Linked DNA regions of Homo sapiens: region 2 is linked to region 1. A link means that fine-mapping ties the variant in region 1 to the plasma level of a protein whose gene starts in the linked region. Region 1 holds a variant in brackets. A gene starts in the other region. All regions are shown on their forward strands. Region 1 overlaps NPHP3 (nephrocystin 3). Region 2 holds the start of CCL19 (C-C motif chemokine ligand 19).

What was found. A credible set is the group of variants that fine-mapping cannot tell apart. PIP is the chance, under the fine-mapping model, that this variant and not a neighbour inherited with it causes the effect. Protein levels are from antibody-based Olink assays in UK Biobank. Linkage for the fine-mapping came from a reference panel and not from the study's own genotypes, which makes the PIPs less certain.
Region 2: CCL19 starts here. The variant in region 1 is the best candidate, but not a certain one, in a credible set for the plasma level of the CCL19 protein (UK Biobank, PIP 0.61).

The regions. Positions count from the first base shown.
Region 1 is chr3:132,689,355-132,696,520 of GRCh38, forward strand. It overlaps NPHP3 (nephrocystin 3), which reads right to left. Exons shown (of 27, transcript NM_153240.5): 16 at 5,473-5,611; 17 at 3,300-3,464; 18 at 1,838-1,932; 19 at 1,174-1,296. It overlaps NPHP3-ACAD11 (NPHP3-ACAD11 readthrough (NMD candidate)), which reads right to left. Exons shown (of 45, transcript NR_037804.1): 15 at 5,473-5,611; 16 at 3,300-3,464; 17 at 1,838-1,932; 18 at 1,174-1,296. Among named protein-coding and RNA genes, the nearest start is that of NPHP3-AS1, 29 kb to the right of the region's middle. RefSeq lists enhancers at 3,675-4,176, 4,177-4,676. The variant T/C (reference allele first, on the strand shown) is at 1,157.
Region 2 is chr9:34,686,221-34,697,696 of GRCh38, forward strand. It overlaps CCL19 (C-C motif chemokine ligand 19), which reads right to left and starts at 5,056. Exons shown (of 4, transcript NM_006274.3): 1 at 4,871-5,056; 2 at 3,990-4,122; 3 at 3,710-3,803; 4 at 3,350-3,619. The coding sequence starts at 4,919. The coding sequence ends at 3,599. It also overlaps a transcript of PHF24 not described here.

The DNA.
Region 1 (7,166 bases):
AATTTATTAGTAGGCGAGTACTGTGTAATGAGGTAAGACTCAGACCACTCACTATCTGAATTCCACCACTATCCTAGCTATGTAATCTTGAGCAGGTTATCTGACCTCTTAGACCTCATCACCTTCATCTGCAGAAATGGAGACACTACCTGCCTCAGCTGGTACTGTAGGGGGATTATGGCACACAGTAAGTACTCCACGGTGTTGGCTGTTATCCTTAATACCATCATGGCTACTTACCAATGGGAATCTATCTGAATCCTTTTTACACATTTCACAATATGGAGCCAACCACTGAGTTCACTCCCAAAATTATTTTAAGTATGGAAATTCAAAGAGAAGAAACTAATAAAAAATAAACTGTCACAGAGTATCTACTTTGTATTTTCATCAAGAAATTGAATGACAAAAGTAAGCTTATTCATCTGTAGGCGATCTTAAGTAGTATGGGGCTGGTAAACTAAAAAATATCTGATTTCAAAGGAATCATGAAAAATTGGAATGGAGATCAGAAATAAGAGATGCAACAAATTTGAGAGAGTTTATGTAGGAGCAAAATAAATTATGATACTTATTGTATAAGAAATGTCTAAATCTCTAAGTAAGGCAGAAAAAAACCCTCATGAAGCTTAGTAGGTTAGACAGTTGCCTCATAAAAAGGTAGTTCTGCCACTGACAAACTATAACATATCAAAAGAGACAAACAGAATACATTTTTGAATTAGGGTAATTCTTTCTTTAAATTCAACACCAGACATAGAAAGTAAACAAACAAACAAAAACAAATAAATTCAACACCAGACAGATTCTACTTGGACCCGAGTCTGGTTTGAAGGCTACGCTTTCAGATATCTGAAGGCCCAAAGAAGCAGACATTACGAACCACCTCTCTGAGTGGTTTAAATTTAGACATGCTTAAATGTAAGCATAAGATAAAAAGTTGAACCGAAATCATTCCAGCTCTGATTTCATAAAGCAGCAGTACTCTATGTTTTCCTCTTGGGAAAAGCAGATCTAATAGAGATTTGTAAATTGTCTCAAGATTTCTCCTACACTATTTGTATTTCAGATACTTAGACTAATTTTTAAATTAAAAATACCATTTTTTCTTTGTTAAACTGAACAACTTTAAATCTCTCTTTCTGGGGAAAGATGT[T/C]CTATAATGTTTCTTACCTTTTATAAAGGTTTTGAGACACAAAGAGATTAAGAAGGCAATCATGCAGCTTCTGTTTACTTCCCTGCTGCTGAAAAAGCCACGGGAGTTCATCTGCACTTCTCCAAGTCACTCTGTCCTGACTATCAAAAGAGAGGAGACAATATTCAATATCTTCCTACAATGAGACTGCTTCAAAAAGGCTTCAGGCAAATGTCAAAGGAAGAAAAATATTTAACATATATCTCTGATTCTTTAAGTATAATTTAATACTAAAAAAGTTAGGTCAAAATCAGAGACTTTACCAATCTAAGAAAATAAATTCAGTGATATGCAGAACCATCAACCAAACTCTAAAAGTATTTTCCTAAAATTGAACTATTTAAAAAAACACTCAATGGACCCGTATATACACATACAGATACATGGACACAAACTATTGGAATAAAATAAAAATAATAAAATGATCCTACATTGATTTTCCTTGTTTAAACTTTTAGCATAATATTAAAAGACAAAATCATCTTTTGCTCTTTTGACATTAACAGAATAGGGAGAGGATTTAATCTTTTTTGTAATAATTAAGTTTTTGTACTTTAAGTTGTAAGCTAAGAAACAGAAATAAGGACACAAAGGTAGTGTGTTGCAGAAGTTACAGAAGAACAACAGGAACATTTACAATACCTTAGCTGCAAGGTGAAATAGTTGATTAGCTTTTGCCTGTATGAAGAAGTAACAGTGGGGCCTTCCAGGTACTCCAATCTCACTGTTTCCCAAGCCTAGGGAGAAAAAGAAGAAATACTGAGTTCTATTTCACGTAAGTCACTGTACATCTAACAAGAGATTTGCAAAAAAGAATTTATAATTATTCCTATTTTATAGCTGTATAATAGAAATGTCACTTAAATGTTTTTAAATTTAGGACATATTTATTTGATAAACTGTTACTAGAATAAAAATTTCTGTACTAATATTTATAAGCTCAAAACACAATTTAATTCAAACTTTAGTTAATACATTAAAAATCTCAGAAGTGTGGAATGAAAAGTTACTAAAAAGAATAAATTATATTCAAACAATACACAATAAAGAAAGGAAAAAGGCTGTGAAATTGCAAACATTTCACATCTACAAATATGATACAGCATACTCAAATGTAAGACTTCATTTACAATTGTATATATATATAAATCAACCATGGCATTGCAGATGATAGGAATTATTTTAGCCAAAACTTCCTAAAGATTTACTTCTATGTGCTAAACATCTTTCTAGTACCTCACAAGGACCAAGAACGACCTCAATTAATTTGCTTCACAACCCCTTTCATAAACTGCCAAAGTCCGCCTGGGGCTTAGATCTTGCCCAAGTTTAGATAGGCATTAATCCATGAAAAGGAGGCTGACTGGCTTACAGAGTCCAAACTCTTAATACATATACAGTCATGTGCACATAACAATGTTTTGGTCAACAACAAACTGCATACATGATGATGATCCTATAAAATTATAATGAAGCTGCCCTATACAGGCATACCGTTTTAAAACTTTCATACCACATTTTTACTGTAACTTTTCTGTATTTAGATACACAAATACTTACAGTTACACACAGTATTCAGTACAGTAATATGCTGTGCAGGTTTGTAGCCTGGGAGCAATAGGCCATACCATATAGCCTCCATGTGTGGTAGGCTGTACCATCTAGATTTGTGTAAGTACGCTCTACAATGCTCACACAATGATACAATCACCTAATGATGTGTTTCTCAGAACATATCCCCATTGTTAAGCAATGCATGACTGTATAATAATACCGCAATTCAATGAAACATAATTGAAAAAGACTTTTTTTCTCTTCAAGAAATAAACTACCTTTAAGAAACTTTTTTTGATCTTTTGTGTCTGACTTATTTTTTAATTTTAAAAATTGTATTGTGGTAAGACCACTTAACGTGAGATCTACCCTCTTAATAAATTTTTAAGTGTACTACAGTATTGTTAACTATAGGGACAATGTTGTATAGCAGATCTTTAGAATTTATTCCTTTGGCAGAAATAATCTTGCCACTGCACTCCAGCCTGGGTGACAGAGAAGACCCTGTTTCTTAAATAAATAAATAAAAAGATGCCTAAAATAACATTACCTGCAGATGTTGAAACCTAAGCAAGCCACATCCATAAGTCAACAAACACATTTTGTATAAACTGTGAATAAGGGAGGTCAAGAAAGTCCAGGACATCTCAGGATAGAGTTCCATCAGTTCTGATTCACTCACACCATTGTGACTAACATTGACAAGGCAGAGGATCTAGGTAGAAAAACAAATTAACAGTAATCATAAAGCACCTGTATAAGTAACTAACGGCCATTAAAAGTTCCATAATTCTTTTAAGGCTATTTCTTTTTACCAAAACTTATAATTCAAATGATTTAATAAATCAAGAAACAGATTTATTAAAACACACTGTCCAAAAGACATTAATGAAGATTAAGATAGTGTATATATAAAATCTAGCACACCAAAGATAACACTCTTACAGAAAAAAGTACAGTGAAAATTAAAACTGCATAAAATGTATTATTATAATTAATGGCAGAATTCCAATTCCAGGAAGACAGTGGAAGAAAATAGCCCTCCTATTATAAACACGTATGAATATCAGACACATTTCTAAAAGCACAGTTTTTAGATAAATAAAGGGAAATCCTCCAACTGCCAAAAATGAATAGGAAATTGAAGTCAGAGTGTAAAGGGCTGGAACTGCTGGCTATGGGGGCAGTGGAGCTAGAGGACAGGCAGCATCCCCCAGTAAGAGCTCAGGTTTTCACAGCCACAGTGGGATGGAAGGTGAGCCCTTAAGCTGTGTGAGGCAAGGAGGTAGAATTAGATTTCTTGTCAACACCAGGATCTTTGAAGGGCTTTGAAGGACCTTCACCCTCAGTGAAGGGGTGCATGAGAAAAACATTAGCCCACAGACGTGGAGAGAATACGAGGAAGCTTGTGGGCTTGGAGTGGGCTGAGAAGTCCAAACCCTGGGAACCACCAAGCTGAAAAGTTAACATAAAAATAGATCCAGGTTCGGCAGGGCGCAGTGGCTCACGCCTGTAATTCCAGCACTTTGGGAGGCCAAAGTGGGCAGATCACGAGGCCAGGAGATCGAGACCATCCTGGCTATCACGGTGAAACCCCATCTCTACTAAAAATACAAAAAATAAGCTGGGCGTGGTCGTGGGTGCCTGTAGTCCCAGCTACTCGGGAGGCCGAGGCAGGAGAATTGCTTGAACCCGGGAGGCGGAGCTTGCAGTGAGCCGAGATCGCGCCACCGCACTCTAGCCTGGGCGACAAGGCGAGACTCTGTCTCGGGAAAAAAAAAAAAAAAATGAGGTTGCTAGATATATATTTTCAAAAACCAAAATTGAATACATCAACAAAAAACTACAATGTTATTTTAATTACATAGCACTTAATTCTAAAAATATATATATGGAAAATTAGACAAGGCAATTGTGAAGGATAATAATAAAAGGAGGTTTACCCAAGTAACTACCAAAGCTTACTTTAAAGTTCTAACAACTAAGCAGTATGGTACTGGCAAATAATAGGCAAAATCAGAACAGAAGAGCCTAGAAACAGACCCACATTTATTTGTGAGCTTGATATTTGTCAGTTGGCATTGCAAATGAGCAGAAGAGATGTATTATTTAGTAAAAAGAACAATTAATTATCCATATGACAGAGGATTAAAAAATAGAATCCTTCCTCACACAATAAACAAAAAGATATCAACAAGAGTTAAGGACTTCACACACGAAGAAAAAACTATAAAACTTTTTGAAGGAAATTATGTGTGTGTGTGTGTGTGTGTGTTTACACACACACACACATATATATATGAAACAAAGCTTTGTATAATGAATGAAACATAATGAATGATACCATACAGTTAAAAGACAAGAAACAAACAGGAAAAAGACATTTATTTGCAAATTTTCTAATAAAGGATTTGTTTTCAGTATGCAGAACATTTAAGACACCTACAGATCGATAAGGAAAAGACAAATGACCCAATTAAAAAATGGGTAAAGACCTGAACCAGCAATTCAGAAAAAAAGGATAGCCAATAACATGAAAAGATGATAAATCTCAATGATAATCAGGTAAACACAAATTTCCACAAGCACACTATGGCTATCAGCATTCCTGCATATGCCTGAAACATATTTAAGCACAAATTTTAAAAGAATTGTTATTTATTTCCATTCACACACACACAAAGCAAACTAACATTCCTTTTTATAAGTTTATTACATTCTACCTGCTTCATTAGCTCTTTATCCACATCATTTGCCATGGACTCCCGGATAGAGTGCAGAACAAGTCTATATAATGAAAGAGTATCTTGACACTGGAAACACTGATGAAGGATTTTATCTAAATTGCCTGCTCTCCCAGCACTGTTGGAATCGAGAAGAGATTTAATTTCTTACAGATTGCCAACATCTGTGAAAATTTTGAGATCGATTAAAAACAACGTGAACTCTATTTTTTGTACTGCAACCAATAACAAATTCAATAAAACATGATAAAGGAAAGTGGTAGTTTTATGGGGCTGCTAGAGTCATTGGGTTTATTTTACTATATATAATTTAATTCAGTGCAATAAACATGCTGAAATCTATTATTTGTTAAGCAATTACTATGCATTATGGAACATAAAAATGAGTCAGACACGGTTCTTATTATCCAGAAGCATGCCACCTACATACAGGAAGCAGGGAAACGATGATAAGTATTGTTAGTTAGCCATGCAAATTAAATTTGTGTGGAGCCAGAATTTTGAAAACACAAGGCTAAAGAAAATCATTAAATAGGGGGGTATGTTTTAAAAGATTACACAATATTTACCAGTTTTTAAAAATAATATAAAGATGTACAAAGAGAAAAAACAAAGGGTCCATAGTCTCTTTAAAATAGGTACTTTCAAAAATAAAAACAGTAAAATACTTTCAATGAACATTATTAAATGTATGAAAAATTACTCACACTCTTGAATCATACTCATTGTATCACTGATGTTCACAGAGGCCAGATGTGTTGCTACAACTAACAGTGGAAAAGGACAGTGGAAATATCACAGGCAGGCTGGGTACAGTGGCTCACATGCTGTAATCCCAGCACTTTGGGAGGCTAAGCAGGTGGATTGCTTGAGCCCAGGAGTTCAAGACCAGCCTGGCAATCATGGCAAAACCCCGCTTATACTAAAAATACAAAAATAAGCCAGGCATGGTGGTGTGCTCTTGTAGTCCCAGCTACTCAAGAGGCTGAGGTGGGAGGATCGCTTGAGTCTGGGAGGCAGAAGTTACAGTGAGCCGAGATCAAGCCTCTGCTCTCCAGCCTGGGCAACAGAGAGTGAGACACTGTCTCAAAAACAAAAACAAAGATGAAATATCATGGGCAATGTAAAGTTTCAGAAGATTTTTTTATTTCAAATTTGGTTCTCAAGATGAGAACATGGAATAAAGAGACAAGAAGTACTAGATTCGGTGTCTGGAAATATGTGTGCTAGAATTGCCATCTATTGCAATGAATAACAAAAAATGTATTAATCTTTTTTTTTTTTACCTCAGATTGAGAAAAGACAAAGTAGAGTGATGCTATACTGAAGAAGAAATAAAAGTAGTAAAACATTCTAACGGTTGAGAATAGATAGAATAGGGTAAAGCTATACTGAGGAAATAAAAGTAGTGATACTCTAATGCTTATCTAAAGGCAGATTACTAATGGATATCTAAAATAGAACTATTTTTATAATTAAAAAGTTTATCAGGACTTGAGAACAGAGACAATTAAAAATTCATATCCATATATCTACCTCCTGATATTCAAAGATACCTGAAATAATATTGTAACCCTCAGTTGTTTCCTTCACTTTCCCAAAGCTAGGGGCCACAAATGAGGGTGAGGATGGCTTTCTTTTGCAACCTCCAATAGGGAACAGATTAGTGTGAA
Region 2 (11,476 bases), not on the chromosome of region 1:
TTCATGAAACTGTTATATCTAAGGTTTTCTGGTGGTTTCTGAGTTTCCCGTAGCCTAGAAGGAGGGAGTGACATGGAGCTTGCCTGCCGAGAAGTTGAATATGAGATGATCAAAACCGTATGAAGCTGGCTCTGAACAAACGCTCAACCACACAACAGAGATAGCCCCAGCTGTCTTGAGAACTGGATGTGCTCCTGGTGGGGGGCGGGGCATGGTGGGAAAAGGCCATGTTCAGTTCCATTTTTGTTAATCATATGTGTATTGGGGCTTATTTCATGCCAGACCCTGGCAGAGCAATGTTAGCAATGGAGTTGGATGAGGCCCAACCTCTCCCTTGGGAGCTCCCTCAACAAATAGGAAAGGGAGATTTTCATCCCCCAAAGGCTAAGAGCAACCTGAGAAGGGATGTCAGATACTTTTAGGGAGATATTGGCTGCTGAGATATTGGCCTTTAGGATGGGAGGTATCACCCAGCTGCAGGCCTTGAACCTGTAACAGATGCCATGTGCGCTAGAGAAGAAGGTGTCTATCTATAGGCAGGCAACAAGGCCTCCACATCCTAACTGGGAAGCTAGGAGTCCACACCACTCCTCAGAGATCTGACAATCTCTGGTGGGCTCCTGGCCCACCAGAACTCTGGATAAATGAAAATGCAACAATTGTCAGTGACTCACCGTGAAAGAGGAAGCAGATGTTGATTAAATGTAGTCACAGTGCTGAGAATGTTAGAGTGGGGCAGGATGCTCAGTTGCTCCAATTGCTCAGATTGCTGGGCAATTGTACCTGGCAGGGAGATAAGGGGGTAAGACCCAGTGCCCAGGATGGGTTGGTATGGTTGGGGGGTGGGAAAAAGAGGAAGGCAGAAAGCTAGGATGGAAAGCATTGGCTGTAGAAGGGGTGGGGAGGGTTGCATGCCAGCTCCCCTGGGACTCTGGTGTCCACCCCTTCAGATTTCCTCCAAGTTCTTCATTTCCCAGGCTTCCAGGGTCAATTGAATCCAAGGCACTTCACTAGCTCCTAGATTATTTTCTCTTTTTATGAGCCTCAGCATCTCCTTTGATCTCAGAGGGTGGCCCCAGGGAGAGTTTTCTGTATGTGCAAGACTTTGTGGGGTGTCTATGCAAATGCTGGCGGTTTAGCATGAGAACCAAAGATTCAGGAGCCAAGTCTTTGTTTGGAAGGAGTCTCAAAAATCAAGCTCCTCTCTCCCATCTGACAAATGGGGAAACTGGATCTCCGGGTGCAGAGTGGAAAAGGAACTTGCCCAGAGTCACACAATGAGTGGGGCAGAGACAGGATCATGGGACTCTGGCCCAGGCAGTGAATTCAGGATTTGCTCTGTACCTCCTGGCGGCAGTGTCATGGAGGTAGCGTCCAGGGGCCCCTATCCTGGTAGCATCTTCTTCAAGGTTCCCACTCTCACCTGCCCTGCTCCGTCTGTGTGTTCCTCCGATAGTCCAGAAAGATCACTTTTGTTGCTTCTGTGGCAGGCTGACTTCCTCTAAATGTCACTGGCACTGAGAAGGATTTCAGGCAATGTGCTCCCCTCCCATGTGTGTTTGTCCTCTGAGACACCAGCCTGCTGGGATGCGGGGCACGGGGTCCACAGCTGGGAGACCTAGAACGCCATGGCTGGCTGGCTTGGTGGATGGATGAAAGAATGGCTGGGTGGGAAGTGCGTGAGTGGACAGTTGGCTGGATGGAGGTCTGATGAATGCAGAAACAGCTGAATGAATGGATGCATGGATGCATGAATGGATGGGTTATTGCAGCTTTTCTTGAAAACTATCCCTATCCCTCCCACCCACCTGGTATTCCAGGTGATTCTGAGACCTGGGATACCCAAGGTTTTGAGCACCTGCATCTGGGAGCAGAGGAGAGGAAGAGGATGTCATGCTCTCAGTGAGGAGGGGCTTTCACAACTCCCTCACCATTTCTCCCTTTTCAAGGCCTGCCCAGGCCTGGTTTTGTTGCTGGCTGACGTATACCCGATATAATGACACCTCTCTTCCCAAGCAAGGGTGCTCAATCTGGCCTCCTTGCTGTCATCTGACCCCAGTGGCACAGCCTTGTCACTCCCAGCTGGAGAGGCCCTTAGAGAACACTGTCTGGAGGCTAGCCTGCTTCCCCAGGAGACTTCTCAAGTACGAGGCACTCACTCTGTACAGAGAAGCCCTGTGGGATGCTCCAAGAGTCACACGGCTCTCATCTCCCAGAGCTGAGATTCCTTTCTGGTCTCATCTGGGGAGATGTCTCTGGTCTCAGTGTTGCCTTTGAGCCCTGGAGCCCATGTAGACTGTAGGGGTGGTGGTAGGGCTCCTCTATGTGGAATCTCCTGTGCTTCCCTGGCTACTCCTTCTTCCACCCCGTGGGCCTCTCTCCTGTCTCTGACCTCTGACTCCCAGGTCTGTCTGTCGGTGTCCCTGAGAGGCATGGCCCCAGGATTGCAAAGATGGGGCTGGACCTTGCTCAGTTTGGCTGAGAGAGGAAGGCTGGCCTGGAGGTCAGATTCTGTATGGACAGAATGAACAGATGGACCCTCAGCCCTGGCTGCTGAGCCTTTCCTCACATATTTATTCATTCTCTAAACAAATATTTATTGAGGGACTGCCTTGTGCCAAGCAGCATGCTGGACACCACAAAAACAGTGGAACCCAAAATAGATGTGATCCCAGTCCAAGAACATGGACAAATTTGGACAAACCAGCAACTATAAGTCAGGGTGATGAATGCTGTGAGGGGCCACTGCAGGAGGCTACCTAACCCAGCCTGGGGTCAGGGAAGGCTTCCTGGAGGAAGAGGCGTCTGGACCCAGATGGGAAGCCAGGTGGGCAGAGGAGAGAGAAGAGTGTGCCAGACCAAGGGAAGGGCATGGGTGGATGGGTATTTTCCCCCAGGCAGTAGAGCTGGGCCCTTTGCCCCACTCCACCTCCCCCAGCCGTGAGAGCTGGTTCCCCACAACTCCCTTCCCCCCAGTGACACTGGATTCCTTAGACACCTGGATGCTTGAACACCTGCCTTGGAGAGCAAAGAGTGGGAGGCATGAGACGCTGGCTCATTCAGGGAACTGACCCAAGCTTAGTGTCGCTGAACTATGGAAAGCAATGAGGCTGATCCTGAGAGCATCAGGTTGTTAAGTGGAGGTGAGCAAGGAGACCCCCTAGGCCACAGAAGAGAAAATAGATCCTGCCATTCCACCTCCCCCTTCCTATTCCTGTCCACCTGGCTAGACAGCAAACGGACAGCAGACAGATCTATGGGTGCCAGGTGCCTTTTTTTTTTTTTTTAAGGCTAGTTAAGCAGTAGGAGTGGAGAAAGAACAAAGAAATCTGTAACAGGTTGTGATCAATTAGTTGTAAACACCAGGCGGCTTTATTGGTAGCATTGCAATCTGGGGGTGGAGCAGCTTTACTCTGACCACACTCACCCTCTCGCTCACACTCACACTCACACACACCCCAGGCCCTGTCCTGGCTGGTCAGGTCTGGTGCAGAGGAGCTGGAAGCCTGGTCCTTCCTTCTGGTCCTCGGTTCCCCAGGTTAGGTAATAATTCACAATGCTTGACTCGGACTCCGGGCTCCCTCTGCACGGTCATAGGTTAACTGCTGCGGCGCTTCATCTAGAGGAGGAAGGAGAGGAAGGATCATGGGCTGGAATCTTAGACAGGAGCTCAGAGGGAGGAGACAGGGCCAGGGAGGGCCAGGCTTGCCTTGGCTGAGGTCCTCTGCAGTCTCTGGATGATGCGTTCTACCCAGGGCTGGTCTGGGGGTGCACAGAGCTGGCGGCCCCTCAGTGTGGTGAACCTGGGGTGAGAGGCCGGAGAGAATGGAGCCCCAGAATCCAGCATGCCTGGGGACCATGTCTGGGAACCTGTTTCAGGGATTTCCTTGAAGGGGTTGGGCTTGGCATGGAGAAGGGGAATAAGAAGGTGGGAGTCTCAACAGGGGCTAAAACGGGAGATGAGGCTAGACACCCTCCCCACAACTCACACTACAGCAGGCACCCTGCAGCCATCCTTGATGAGAAGGTAGTGGAAGTTCCTCACGATGTACCCAGGGATGGGTTTCTGGGTCACAGACAGGCAGCAGTCTTCAGCATCATTGGTGCCACTCAGAGTTGGGGCTGGGATGGGGAAAGAAGGTGACAGGACACAGGGACCCTTGAGGGTGGCATGGCCATGGCCCTAGCTCGGATTGAGGACACCTGTGTGTGTGTGTGTGTGTGTGTGTGTGTGTGTGTGTGTGTGTGTCTGGTGGGGTCGGGGAGGAGTTAGACCTGGTATTCAGCCATTATGCACCAATATGGCTCTGGCTCTACTGGTTGCTAAATATATTGTCATACTTCTAAACTGTTTTGTAAATAACCACTGCCCTGAGCCCCACAAATGACTTCCTGCTGCCCTGATCACCCCAACCTCTCTCCCAGGACAATCCAGCAAGTAAAGAGTTAATGCAGGTCACAGTGTGGGAGGGGCGTGGGGTAGGGTAGGCTGGTGTTAGGAGCCTTATTAATTGCTAAAATTTTTGAATATCAGCCTTGGCTTAGTGTCTGCCATTCTCCCTACCTTAAGCAAATCTCCTTCTGCCTGGGAAACGGAGGCAGCAGGAAATAGAGCTTGCAGAGACAGTCACAGCCATAGGCCCCAGGATGTGCTAAAAGACACACCCGCATTGGGATTCAGGGGCACAGGGACACCCACACTTACAGGCACACATGCAGGGACCTGCCAGGCTCACCGAAATATACAGACCTAAGCATTTGCCTGAACTCACCATGTCCCTTACGTCCAGTGCCAAGCAATCTGAGATCTAGACATTACCCACTGCCAGCCCCCCACTGCCTCTGACCCTGACTCTCCCTTCAGCCTTACCTGGGGAAGTCCAGAGAACCAGCAGGCTGAGGGCCAGTAGCAGGGCCATGGAGGGTGAACAGAGGCAGGCCAACGGTGAATGTGTGAGCGCCAGCTGTCTGGGTGTGTGCAGGATCTGTGTGAGGCTGCAGGGCGACTGGGATGCAGGGGTGAAATGCAAGGTGTGAGTGATGTGAGGCTGGGAATGTGAGCCCTGCAGCTGACTCCTATTTATGGCCAGAGCTTCACTTTCTCTGCCTGAAATTCCCCTTCATGTCCCATTCTGTGATTCCCCTGTTGCCCCCCTCTTTCTGGCAGAATCGCACCCTGCCCCCCTTCTTCCCCCTGCGGTTGCCCTTTCCTTCTGCTTTCCTTGGCTCCTGCTCTGAGAACTTAAGTCTGCAGTCTGGCCCAGTAAAGGGGGCTGTGCACTGTTTCTCCAGAGAGAGGGATTGCCCTGTCATCCCATTGATGGCATTTGCATCATCAACCATGAAGCTGGGGTTCAGAAGTGATGGTCAAAGGTGGGGCCCACAGTGAGGAACTGTGCTCCCTTCCTTAGGTTTATCCCTTGTCCTCACTGGTGCTTCTTTCTTGGGCTGGTGGTGAAGAAGGCTCCCTGGCACCCTCAGGACAACCATGAGATCCTGGGGTGGCCTCCAAGGTCATCACTGTGCCTGCCCACTATGTGGGAACCAGTCCTTCCCTTGGGGCAAGCAGAGCTGAAAGGCCAGGTACCTTGGGAGGAGGCCCAGGACCCCCATCCCACATCTCAGGCCTCTGGGGCTCAGCAAACCCTCCCCTTCCTCTATTTACTGTTTTCCTATGTCCAACACCTGGGTCAAAGGAACAGCTGGAGGGAGACTGGCTTGGAATAGCCCCCTTCATTTTCCCCCTTTTCTCAGTCCTGGGAACCAAGAGGGGATTTCTAAGGAGAGGGGCTGGCCAGCTCATATTCAGACAAATCTTAAAATTTCAAGGAATCGGCCGATGGGGGAGGGGACAAGTGACTTCCCATCCTTATGAGAAAGGTCAGAAGAGAAGGCCTTGAAAGAGAAACTAAATGTGAAACGCCCAGTCACCCGTCGTCACCCAAACCCTAGACCCTCTTTTGGATGGAGAGAGGGAGGGGGAACATTTCCCTCTTAAATTTCTGACTTAGCTTCTTTCCATTCATTAATCATAATAATAGTAATGGTATTTTTGATTGTTTACTATGTGCTAGGCTCTATGTCAAGGACTTTACCACTATTACCTTGCTTAACTTTCCCAAAACAATACCATTGATGTAGTTTTTCTTATTTTCACATTATTATTCTTATTTTACACATAAGGAACATGAGGCTCAGAGCACAAAGCCACACAGCTAGTAAGTACTGGAGCATGATTTGGACCCAGGTGTGCTCTAGGGTTTGCAGTCTTTACCTCCACTCCACACCGCCTGTCTGCCACTTGGTCATGGCACAGCACGGGTAGTCACGGTGCAGAGGAGGGAGACTCTGCAGACAGAGCGCCTAGCTTGGGATTCAGATTCCACCACTTACTAACTGCGACAAGGTGAAAATTCTCCAGTTTCTGTGTCTTAGTGTCCTTATTTGTAAAATGGGAATGGTAGAAGATCTACTTCTTAGGATTAAGTGAGGAACCCTGAGTAAAGCCCTTAGCTTAGAGGCTGACGCACAATAAGCTCTGTTAGCCATTGTTCTTCTTTTGTCCTTTTTTTTTTTTTTTTTTTGAGACAGAGTCTCACTCTGTCACCCAGGCTGGAGTACAATGGCACGATCTTGGCTCAGAGCAACCTCCACCTCCTGGGCTCAAGGGATTCTCCTGCCTCAGCCTCCTGAGTAGCTGGGATTACAGGCACCCACCATCATGCCCGGCTAAATTTGGTATTTTTAGTAGAGGTGAGGTTTCACCTTGTTGGCTAGGCTGGTTTCGAACTCCTGGTTTCGAACTCCTGACTTCAAATGATCTGCTTGCCTCCGCTTCCCAAAGTGTTGGGATTACAGGCGTGAGCCACCGTGCCTGGCCTTCTATCCTTTTATTCAGGTATCTGTTCATTAATTCATCCATCCACCCCTCTTTCCATTGATCTATCCATTCTTCTGTCCATGATGGTTCTGGTTATTCTGTTTGCCCCAGCCTATCCATTCTCCACTCTTCACGGCCCTGCTCTGCTCCCTGGAAGGCTGACCTCTGCAGATAGCATTACTTAGGGTCACCTGCTTTCTGGCTTCTGTTTGGGGCTGGCCCATGGGAAGCAGCAACTGATCAGTGGTGGAAGGAGAGAGGGGTATTAATTCCCCAAATCCTTCATCTTGCTGCAGTTCTGGCAGTGAATAATTTCCCCTGTGGCAGTTGTTCTCAAAGAGTAGCCTTTGGGCAGCAGCAGCAGCATCACTTGGGAGCTTGTTAGAAACACGAATTCTTAGATTTTACTTCCCACTTACCACATCTGAGACTCTGAGGATGGGGTCCAGCAAACTGCATTTTCACATACCCTCCAAGTGACTCTGATATGTGCTAAAGTTTGAGATCCAAACGAGCCTCAGGGATACCATCAAATATACCTCATCACAGGAGTCTCAGGAGGAGAATAGAGAGAACAGGGCATTAAAAAAATTGAAGAAATAATGACAAAACATCTGAAATCTGATGAAAAGTATGTATATACATATCCAAGAAGTTCATTACGCCTGGCCTGCTATGTTGTTATGTTTATCAGAGATCTTTGTTTCTTTGTGTGGCTGTAAGTTATTACTTTTTGTCCTTTTGTTTCATTCTGAAGGTCTCCCTTTAGCATTTCTTTGTTTGTTTTTTGTTTTTTCTTTCTCCCTTTAGCTTTTCTTATGGGCAGATGTACTATTAATGAACTTCCTAAGTTTTGTTTATCCAGAACAGGAGTTTGAGACAAGCCTGGCCAACATGGTGAAACCCCATCTCAACTCCTGACTACTCAGCTACTCAGGAGGCTGAGGCAGGAGAATCCCAAGGCTCACCTTGGCCTCCCAAAGTGGTCTACAGATTGAGGCCCACTGATCTACAGTGATCCTTTTGGGTTGCCTCCCTTCCACGGGTCTATCTCTATTCTTTTTTTTTTTTTTTTTTTTTTTTTTTTGATACAGAGTCTCAATATGTCACCCAGGCTCTAGTGCAGTGGCACAGTCTCAGCTAACTGCAGCCTCTGCCTCCTATGTTCAAGTAATTCTCTTGCCTCAGCCACCCGAGTAGCTGGGATTAGAGGCACGCACCACCACGCTTGGCTAATTTTTTTTTTTGAGATGGAGTTTCACCCTTGTCACCCAGGCTGGAGTGCAATGGCACAATCTCAGCTCACTGCAACCTCCGCCTCCTGGGTTCAAGCGATTCTGCTGCCTCAGCCTCCTGAGTAGCTGGGATTACAGGGACCCGCCACCACACCCAGCTAAGTTTTTTGTATTTTTAGTAGAGATGGGGTTTCATCATGTTGGCCAGGCTGGTCTTGAACTCCTGACCTCAGGTGATCCACCTGCTTTGGCCTCCCAAAGTGCAGGGATTACAGGCGTGAGCCACCATGCCCGGCCTAATTTTTGTACTTTTAATACAGATGAGATTTCACCATGTTGGCCAGTCTGGTCTCAAATTCCTGACCTCAGGTGATCCACCCGCCTCGGCCTCCCAAAGTGCTGGGATGACAGGCTTTGGAAACACTGTTCCCTCCTCTTGCCCCTTCAAGCCTTTGTATGATAATGGTTTCTCACCATTGCTAGACCCCAACTGCCTATCATCCCATGTTAGTTCCTTAATCCTGACCTAATCTCTTAAATTGTCCCTTTATTAAAATCTTTCCAGTTAAATTTTTTTTGAGTGTATGTGATATTGTGAAATATATATCTGGTCTTCATCTTCCTTTTCTGACATATAGCTCCTAAAATCCTTGGAATCTTGGGAGAGATTGTGTCTTTTGTATGCTAATGAGATAACTGGTGGCTGGGGGCCTCTAGACAGCCTCTGGATGGGAGCTAGTCAGCAGAAGAACCAGCCACATGGTTAGAGAGTTGGAACATTCTCTAACATTCTGTAGTGGTGGGGAGTCCCACCCACTCCCCACCTCTGGGTAGGGGAAGAGGGGTTGAAACTTGAGTTGATAAACCAATGGCTGATGATGTAATCAATTATACCTAGGTACTGATACTTCCATTAAAAACCCGAAAGGACTAAGTTGGGGTGGGGGCTTCTGGATAGCTGAAAACATGGAGGTTCTGGAGGAGGGTGCCCAGAGAGGGCATGAAAGCTCCACACCTTTTTTTCCCCATACCTCACTCTATGCATCCCTTTCATCTGGCTGTTTATCTGTTCTTTGTAATATCCTTTATAATAAATGGGTAAGCATAAGTAAGTGTTTCTCTGACTTCTGTGAGCCGCTGTAGCAAATTAATTGAACCCCAGGTGGGTTGTGGAAACCCTTATTTATAGCTGGTCAGTCAGAAGCATAGGCCACACTCTGTGCTTGCAATTGGTATCTGAAGTAGGGGGGCAGTCTTGTGGAACTGAACCCTCAACTTGTGGGATCTGATGCTACCTCCAGGTAAATGATGTCAGAATTGAACTGAATTAGGGGACACCCATCTGGTGTCCACTGAGGAACTGTCTGCCAGATAATTTCTTGGTGGGGAGAAATCCCCACACACTTATGGGTACCCAGAGGTCACAGAAGTATTGAGTGGTGAGAGGGAGTAGAGAGTAGGGAAACATGGTTTTCCCTGTATCCTTGGAGTGTGCTATCTGTTTCCTGCCAGGGTCCTCACTGATATAATTGGCAGTACCAGGACATAGATTCCCAAAATGGGATTCTAGGATTGGCTTGCCCTTGATGAGGGCATGGATGGTCTCTGTGGTTGGAAAAAGAAGACACAAGTAATCTGGAGCACGTAGAAGCATCACAGTCACTTAGACTATCACTCGTGAGGCATGGATGAAATGTTGGAAGTCAAGACATTAGGAGATAAAGTACCTGAGGCACTTACTTACTATGGTCACAAATGATGATTGCAAATGGTGATTACTATATTGTTACTATAGTACTATATTGAGGCCAGAACCTCACTGGCCATTTCTGATTGTGCTAGTAAAATTCCAATAAAAAAGATAAGGTTAGGCCAGGCACAGTGGCTCACGCCTGTAATCCCAACATTTTGGGAGGCTGTGGGGGGCAGATCACTTGAGGTCAGGAGTTTGAGACCAGCTTGACCAACATGGCGAAACCCTGTCTCTACTAAAAATACAAAAATTAGCCAGGCACGCTGGCGAGTGCCTGTAATCCCAGCTACTCAGGGGGCTGAGGCAGGAGAATCGCTTTAACCCGGGAGACAGAAGTTGCGGTGTGCAGAGATCATGCCATTGCACTCCAGGCTGGCGACAGAGCAAGACTCCATCTCAAAAAAAAAAAAAAAAAAAAAGTTTAGACCAGGAACTTCTAACTCAAATGGAAGTCTTAAGGAATGTTTATTGTATGTGGCCACATGACAGATATGGCTGAGGATCAGATCCAAGACCCGAGTGTCTTGGATTCATGTATGAGTGATGATGCCCTTATCCTGGAATAAAGGCACTGTTGGGAAGGCATAGGACTCTGAAACTTGGAATGGTGACATTTGAGCAGAGATGAACAAAGCTGAGAACTTTGGACCTTCAAATCCCCCTGAATCTTCCTTGGTGGCAGAGGATAATTCCCCCTTCCCCTGTAAACCATGAAGGATCCAACCTTCCCTTCCGTTAGATAATAACTCTCTGGCAAAAGGCATGCCTTTTTCCCTCAGGACCCACCCTGACCAGCCCTCAGAGTCTCCAGGCCCGTAGCAAGTTTAATCCTAACATTGTCTGGACAGGAAAGTACAGGATATGCTCCAAGAGCAAGAGCGTAGGTGCTGGGAAATTTGCAGGAACTTGTCAACTTGTCCTGGGAGAATCCCAGGAACCAGTGAGGACAAATTTATTGATATAGGTGTTCTCATGTAGGATTTGGGTATCATTGTGTTAATATTAGCTGAGCACCTGGGAGTTGTGTTAATATTCTGTTGGGTTGATTCCTGGAAGCCTGGATTTGACAGTGGCCTGTGATCAGTGAGGCTGAGGTGCTAGAACCTCGCTGGCCTGTTGTAGAACTCCTCAAACTTTAATGTGTGCATGATTCACCTAGGAGAATCTTATTAAACTGTAGATTCTATTCAGTAGGTCTGTAGTGAAGCCCAGGATGTTTCATGTTTCACATTCACAAATTTTTTTTTTTGAGGTGGAGTCTTGCTCTGTCACCCAGGCTGGAGTGCAATGGCACGATCTCTGCTCACTGCAACCTCCACCTCCTGGGTTCAAGCGATTCTCTTGCCTCAGCCTCCCAAGTAGCTGGGATTACAGGCACATACCATCATGCCCGGCTGACTTTTGTATTTTTAGTAGAGATGGGGTTTCATCATGTTGGCCAGGCTGGTCTTGAACTCCTGACCTCAGCCGATCCACCTGCCTCGGCCTCCCAAAGTACTGGGATTACAGGCCTGAGCCACCGCACCCAGCCTTCACGTTTCACAAACTTTTAAATGATGCTGATGCTGTGGTCCTTGGACTATACCTTGAATAGTAAAGTAGAGGAAG